2 separate regions of the Homo sapiens genome follow, and region 2 is linked to region 1. The links come from fine-mapping of genetic effects on gene expression. A gene starts in region 1. The other region holds a variant in brackets. All regions are shown on one strand. Distances are between the middles of the regions.

The links. PIP is the estimated chance that this variant, and not a neighbour inherited with it, causes the effect. A credible set is the group of variants that fine-mapping cannot tell apart.
Region 2: its variant is the best candidate, but not a certain one, in a credible set for the expression of MAFA in whole blood (INTERVAL, PIP 0.88).

The regions. Positions count from the first base shown.
Region 1 is chr8:143,429,497-143,432,385 of GRCh38, reverse strand. MAFA (MAF bZIP transcription factor A) reads left to right here and starts at 1,654. Exons shown (of 1, transcript NM_201589.4): 1 at 1,654-2,889. The coding sequence starts at 1,980. RefSeq lists a silencer at 1,298-1,737.
Region 2 is chr8:143,406,185-143,409,073 of GRCh38, reverse strand. MAFA-AS1 (MAFA antisense RNA 1) reads right to left here and starts at 881. Exons shown (of 3, transcript NR_186795.1): 1 at 705-881. RefSeq lists silencers at 879-1,078, 1,119-1,438 and an enhancer at 2,462-2,889. The variant C/T (reference allele first, on the strand shown) is at 1,805.

The sequences.
Region 1 (2,889 bases):
CCTTCCCGGGCCTCCCTCTCAACACGGGGTGCCATAAAGGAAACCCCACACCCCTGGCTGGCTGACCACTCGTGTGGTCTCAAGTCCAGGTACCCAGTGTGGGGACTTGGCTCTGCTGCATGCCCACTTCATTTCTTCATCTGTAGAAGGGTGGGGAGCTCAGAGCCCCCTCTGGGACAGGATCGGGGGAGAGGGGTCCCTGCAGGTGGGTCCTCATGCTGTCCTTGGCCCTCCCTTGCGGGGAGGAAGGCCTGGTCTTCCCAAATCAGCAGTCCCAGCTCTGCCCAGAGGAGTGGGAGGGCCCAGGGAAGGGCCAGGGACACCCCGAGACACCTTAGGAAGCAGATGTTCAGTCCTCACTTCATGACAGTCTTCTTGTTACAAAACAATAGATCTTTGTAGAGGGAAGGAGGTGAGAGCCTGGTACTAAATCTGCGGCGCCGTGACCAGGCCTCCCTGTGGCCTCTGCGCAACTCCTTCCAGGCTTTTTTTCTCTACACAGGTGGTTACATTTTAGACTTTTTTTTTTTTTTTTTAAATTGCTGAAGTCATAGAACAGCAATGGAGAGAATTTCGAGAAGAAACAATAGGCCCACTTCGGGTCACCGGCCTTGTAACTCCTGGCGCAACCCTCCCATCACCCGGCTCGCTGGTGTCGGGGACCTGGGGTCACAGGCCCACCGCCCATCGTCACCTCCTTTGCCCCGTGAACCGGAGCCGTCTCCTCCCAGCAGGTGCACGGCCGCCAGGTGGAAATCCCCGCCTTCCCGTCTCAGTTACCCCCCGTCCCACTCCAGGCCCAGCAAGGCGCCTCCAGCCCTGCGGGGGGCGAAAGTGGGCAGTGGTGGCCGCTTGGGCGGGGATTCCTAACGCCCTGAGGGGCTGCCAGCCCGTGGGCCCCGCCCCCGCCGCTCGCACCCACCCGCGTTGTCCCGCGACCCCCACAGTCCTGCGCTCTCCGCGGCCCCCCACAAGCCGGCCCTCCGTCCCCGGCCCCTCGCGCCGCCCCGCACGCGTGTGTCCCCCTCCGCCCGCCCCGTGCTTCCCGGTGCCCGGAGGTGCCGGCAACTTTGTTGACCAAATTCCTGAACGCGTCTGAGCCGCGGGCTAAAAATAACCGGCTCAGCGCGCCGCGCTCTGCCGGGCCGCGCGGTGTCACCCGTGTCCAGAGGCCCGGAGGTCCCGCTGCCGCCGCCGCCGCCGCTAGCGGAGCTGCCCCCGGCCCCCAGGCCCGGCCGCAAACCCAGGGGGCCGAGGGGGCGTCCCGCCGCGTGGCCCGAGGCGGACGAGGCCCCGAGGGGGTCCCCGGGCGCGGTCCCCGTCTGCTTCCCCGGACTCTCCGGCCGCCGGGTGTGGGAGCTGAGGCCCCTGGAGACGGCAGTTGTCCCCTGAGGCGGCGCGCCCTCTGCCCGTGCAGTGCCCCGTGATGGCCACCAGAGGGCCCTGCCCTCTCCTCTAGCCGGCGGCCCGTCCCTACCTCTTCCCACAGCTGTTTCCCGCAGGAGATTGACAGCTGGGCTCTGAGTTGCCATGGGGATAAGCAAATGAGGGCGGCGGGGCTGGGGCTCCGATTGGCCCGGGGGCGCGCGCCCCTCCCGGGGAGGCGGGCCCAGGCACCCGGCTCTATAAAGGGGCGCGCGCGGCTTCGCGTTTAGCCGTGGGAGGCGGGGCCGGCCGGCGGCGCGGGTGGGGCGCGGGAGCGGTCCCGGAGCAGCCCGAGGCGGCGGCCGCGGGGAGGAGGCGGCGACGCGGGCCCGGGGTCGCCCGAGACACCTGGCCAGCGGTGCCCCTAGCGCGCCGCCCCGGAGTTGACCACGTGAAACTTTTCCCTGCGCCCCTCGGCGCCGCCGCCCCGCGCCGGCGCCCCCCCGCCCCCGCCGGGACCGCCGCCCGCGGGGAGCAGGGGGGGGAGAGGCCTGCAGCTCCCCCCCCACTCCCACGCCGCCCGTCGGGGCGCGGCCGGGCGCGGGCCCCGGGCGATGGCCGCGGAGCTGGCGATGGGCGCCGAGCTGCCCAGCAGCCCGCTGGCCATCGAGTACGTCAACGACTTCGACCTGATGAAGTTCGAGGTGAAGAAGGAGCCTCCCGAGGCCGAGCGCTTCTGCCACCGCCTGCCGCCAGGCTCGCTGTCCTCGACGCCGCTCAGCACGCCCTGCTCCTCCGTGCCCTCCTCGCCCAGCTTCTGCGCGCCCAGCCCGGGCACCGGCGGCGGCGGCGGCGCGGGGGGCGGCGGCGGCTCGTCTCAGGCCGGGGGCGCCCCCGGGCCGCCGAGCGGGGGCCCCGGCGCCGTCGGGGGCACCTCGGGGAAGCCGGCGCTGGAGGATCTGTACTGGATGAGCGGCTACCAGCATCACCTCAACCCCGAGGCGCTCAACCTGACGCCCGAGGACGCGGTGGAGGCGCTCATCGGCAGCGGCCACCACGGCGCGCACCACGGCGCGCACCACCCGGCGGCCGCCGCAGCCTACGAGGCTTTCCGCGGCCCGGGCTTCGCGGGCGGCGGCGGAGCGGACGACATGGGCGCCGGCCACCACCACGGCGCGCACCACGCCGCCCACCATCACCACGCCGCCCACCACCACCACCACCACCACCACCACCATGGCGGCGCGGGACACGGCGGTGGCGCGGGCCACCACGTGCGCCTGGAGGAGCGCTTCTCCGACGACCAGCTGGTGTCCATGTCGGTGCGCGAGCTGAACCGGCAGCTCCGCGGCTTCAGCAAGGAGGAGGTCATCCGGCTCAAGCAGAAGCGGCGCACGCTCAAGAACCGCGGCTACGCGCAGTCCTGCCGCTTCAAGCGGGTGCAGCAGCGGCACATTCTGGAGAGCGAGAAGTGCCAACTCCAGAGCCAGGTGGAGCAGCTGAAGCTGGAGGTGGGGCGCCTGG
Region 2 (2,889 bases), 23 kb after region 1:
GATGGTCCCAAATCTCCCTGGTTCTGGTCACGGCCTGTGGCCTCTCTTGTCCTTCTGTGACTCTCAGGCCTGGTCACCCCTCCCCATGCTGGGCTCTCTCCTCTGTCACACACCCCTCAGCATCCCTGCCCAAGGACAGCCTAGCGTCCTGGGAGCTGGGCCTCAGGCCCTCTCCGGGCAGCCTCCTGGGGCAGAGTGTGTCCTGGAGCCTCCAGCCACTGGCCCTGTCCAGGCTCTGCCCCCAGGGCAGCACACTCACTCCTCACCACAGTGTCCTGGCGCCATCTGTGACCCCCGGCCTCTCCAAGCAGCCACAGGTCCACGGGAACCTGAACATGGCATCAGGTGAGAGGCAGGTGAGCATGGCCAGACCCCACACCCTGGGAGTCCTTCTCCTCTGAGCGGCCCCTCCCCAACAGGCTCGTGGGGTGAGGAGAGGGGCTAGGGGGTGGGAAGGCTGACGGAGGGAAGCCTGGGGATAGGTGGGGAGCCTGGGGGTTGGGGACTGTCTGGAGAGACCTCCTGCCACTCTCGTCCAGCCCACCAGCCCCGGTCTCCATCCCAGCCAGGCCTGGGTCACCAGGCGGCAGTAGGACCGCACCCTCTTTTCCCTGGAGGAGAGAAGAGGGGCCCTGTAGATTGGCCACGCGCTCGCTGAGCCTCAGTGACCTCAGCTGTAAGGTGGGTGCTGATGACAGACGTACCTGCTGCGGGGTGGGAGGAGCAGGTGACAGGCTCATTCCCGGTAAGGCGGGCCTGGTCCCCATCCTGGCTGCTCTGCCTGAGGCGCTCTGGGAGAGCAGAGGCGGACACAGAGGCTGGGACCACCTGAGGGACTTGCTGGGGCTGGAGGAATCCCAGTGCAGAGGCGGACACGACAGGGCGGGGCAGGGGCCGGGAAGGGAAAGGGTGGGCGGGGAATGGGTGGGGCCGATGTCGGAGGGACGGGACCGGGAAGGGGCGGGGCCGAGGCCGGAGGGGCGGAGCCGGAAGGGGCGGGGCAGATCGGGGCAGGGGCCGTGGCAGGAAGGGGCAGGGCGGGGACCGGCCGGGGACCTGGGCGAGGCGGGACGGGTTTGGTGCTTGAACCCGATCTTAGCGCTAGGAGAAGGTCCAGGGGGTGGGCTCCTCGCAGAGGGCAGGACACCCACCTCCCCGTGCACCTGCTTCTTCTCCGGTCTCCCGCCCCCAGCAGCATTCTAGGACCCAGGGGTGTCATCGGGTCGGGGAGGGAGGGGCTGAGCCTGGGTTTGGGGACATCGGGACAGGGGGAGGGGCTGGCGCTCCCGTCTGGCCGGGACCCCGTGGCCTAGCGCGGCTCCACGACCGACAGACGGCAGCGGACGTGGGGGGTAGGAGCGCGCAGGGCGGGGGCGTCAGATGGCGCCGCCTGGGGCTGCCCCCCGCCCGCCATGAGGAAGCGAGTTGGGGCCCCGGGCTCTGCTTATCTGGAGGGGCCACGTGCCCGCTGCGCCCTGCGGATGGCAGGAGAGGTGACACGCCGACTGCCACCGTCGGTGCCCGGGGCTGCCCCGACCTGGAGGGTGGGGCGGGGGTACCGCGCGCGGGCACAGCTGTCTCCCCGCAGTTGCCCGGCTAGGGGTCCCCGGGCGGCCAGTGCACGTGCGCGGGGTCTGCTCCTGCGGGGTACAAGGGGGACAACAGCGAGGGTGGGCGAGGGGGAGGCGAGAGCAGAAGCGAGAAATGCGGGCACAGGGTGAGAAGCCTGGGACCTCCTGAGAGGGTGAGAAGGCCTGCCCCCAACGGACACCCTCATGCCTGAACCACCAGCCACTGAGCTCTC[C/T]TTGTCAAGAGTCCTGGGGCCCCTCGCCAGGGAGACGCCAACTGAGCACCCAGCAGGACGACGCCCCGCAGGGAAAGATGGCTTGGGTTGGGCCTGGGGAGTCCCTGCCGCCTAGACGGGTCCCTGGGGAGGGTCAGTGGCACAGCCTGGTAGACTGGGCCTGAGTCAGGCAGTCTTTCGGGGAGGACCCCTCACTCAGCGAGGGACCAGCACCCTGATTCCACCCTGTGGGCCGGGCTGGTACCGGCCTTCCCCTCAGGCTGTGGGTGCCAGGACCCCAGGGCCCCTCTTAGTTTCTGCCCGGCCAGCAGCAGAGCCTGTGATGGGGCGTGGGGGGCACAGGCAGCTCGTGCATGGCTGCAGTGGGGCCCGGCACAGGGCGGGAGACCCGGGACAGTGGCTTTGCCCCTGGGGTGGTGGCCAGCCCCACTCGGGTGTGTGATCACCCCTGGTCCCCTTACCAGGAAGGGGCATGACCTACCAGGCGGAGATTCCAGGCCCTGATGTCCTCGGCTCTGAGTGGCATCAGTGCCCAGGCCAGCCTGAGGCAGGCAGGGCAGAGCTTGGTTGTGCAGAGCAGGGGTCCTCCAGCCTTCCCTCCTACCTCTGCCTTCTCCAGGGGTTGTGGGCTGAGGAAGCTTTTGGATGCGGACCCAGGAGAGCCTCTTGGGAATAGCTGAGGCTGCCTGGGGTTGGAGAGGAAGCCTGTGAGAAGGCGGCCTCCTCCACTGTCCCTGAGGACCACTGTGGGGAGCACGCCCTGGGCAGAGTTCCCTTCCACCCGGGTCCTGCGGGGGAGGCCAGGCCAGCCTACCAGGTCCCCTGGCTGAAGGGGAGGGGCCCCAGCCCTCCCTCCTGGCTGCTGTGGGAGGCCTTGAGCCTCACGTCTCACCAGGCCGCGTGCTGTGGGTAGAGGTGGGGGTGGGAGCCCACAGGGGCACATCGCCCCAGTCCTTGGAAGAGGAGATGGTGGCATGGGCAGCGTGAAGTGGAAAGCACTCAGGCTGGCCGGGGCCACGCAGGGCCAGGGAGTTGAGGGAGTAAGGGCTGGGGTGCAGCTGTCTTGGCGGCTGGCAAGCAGGAGC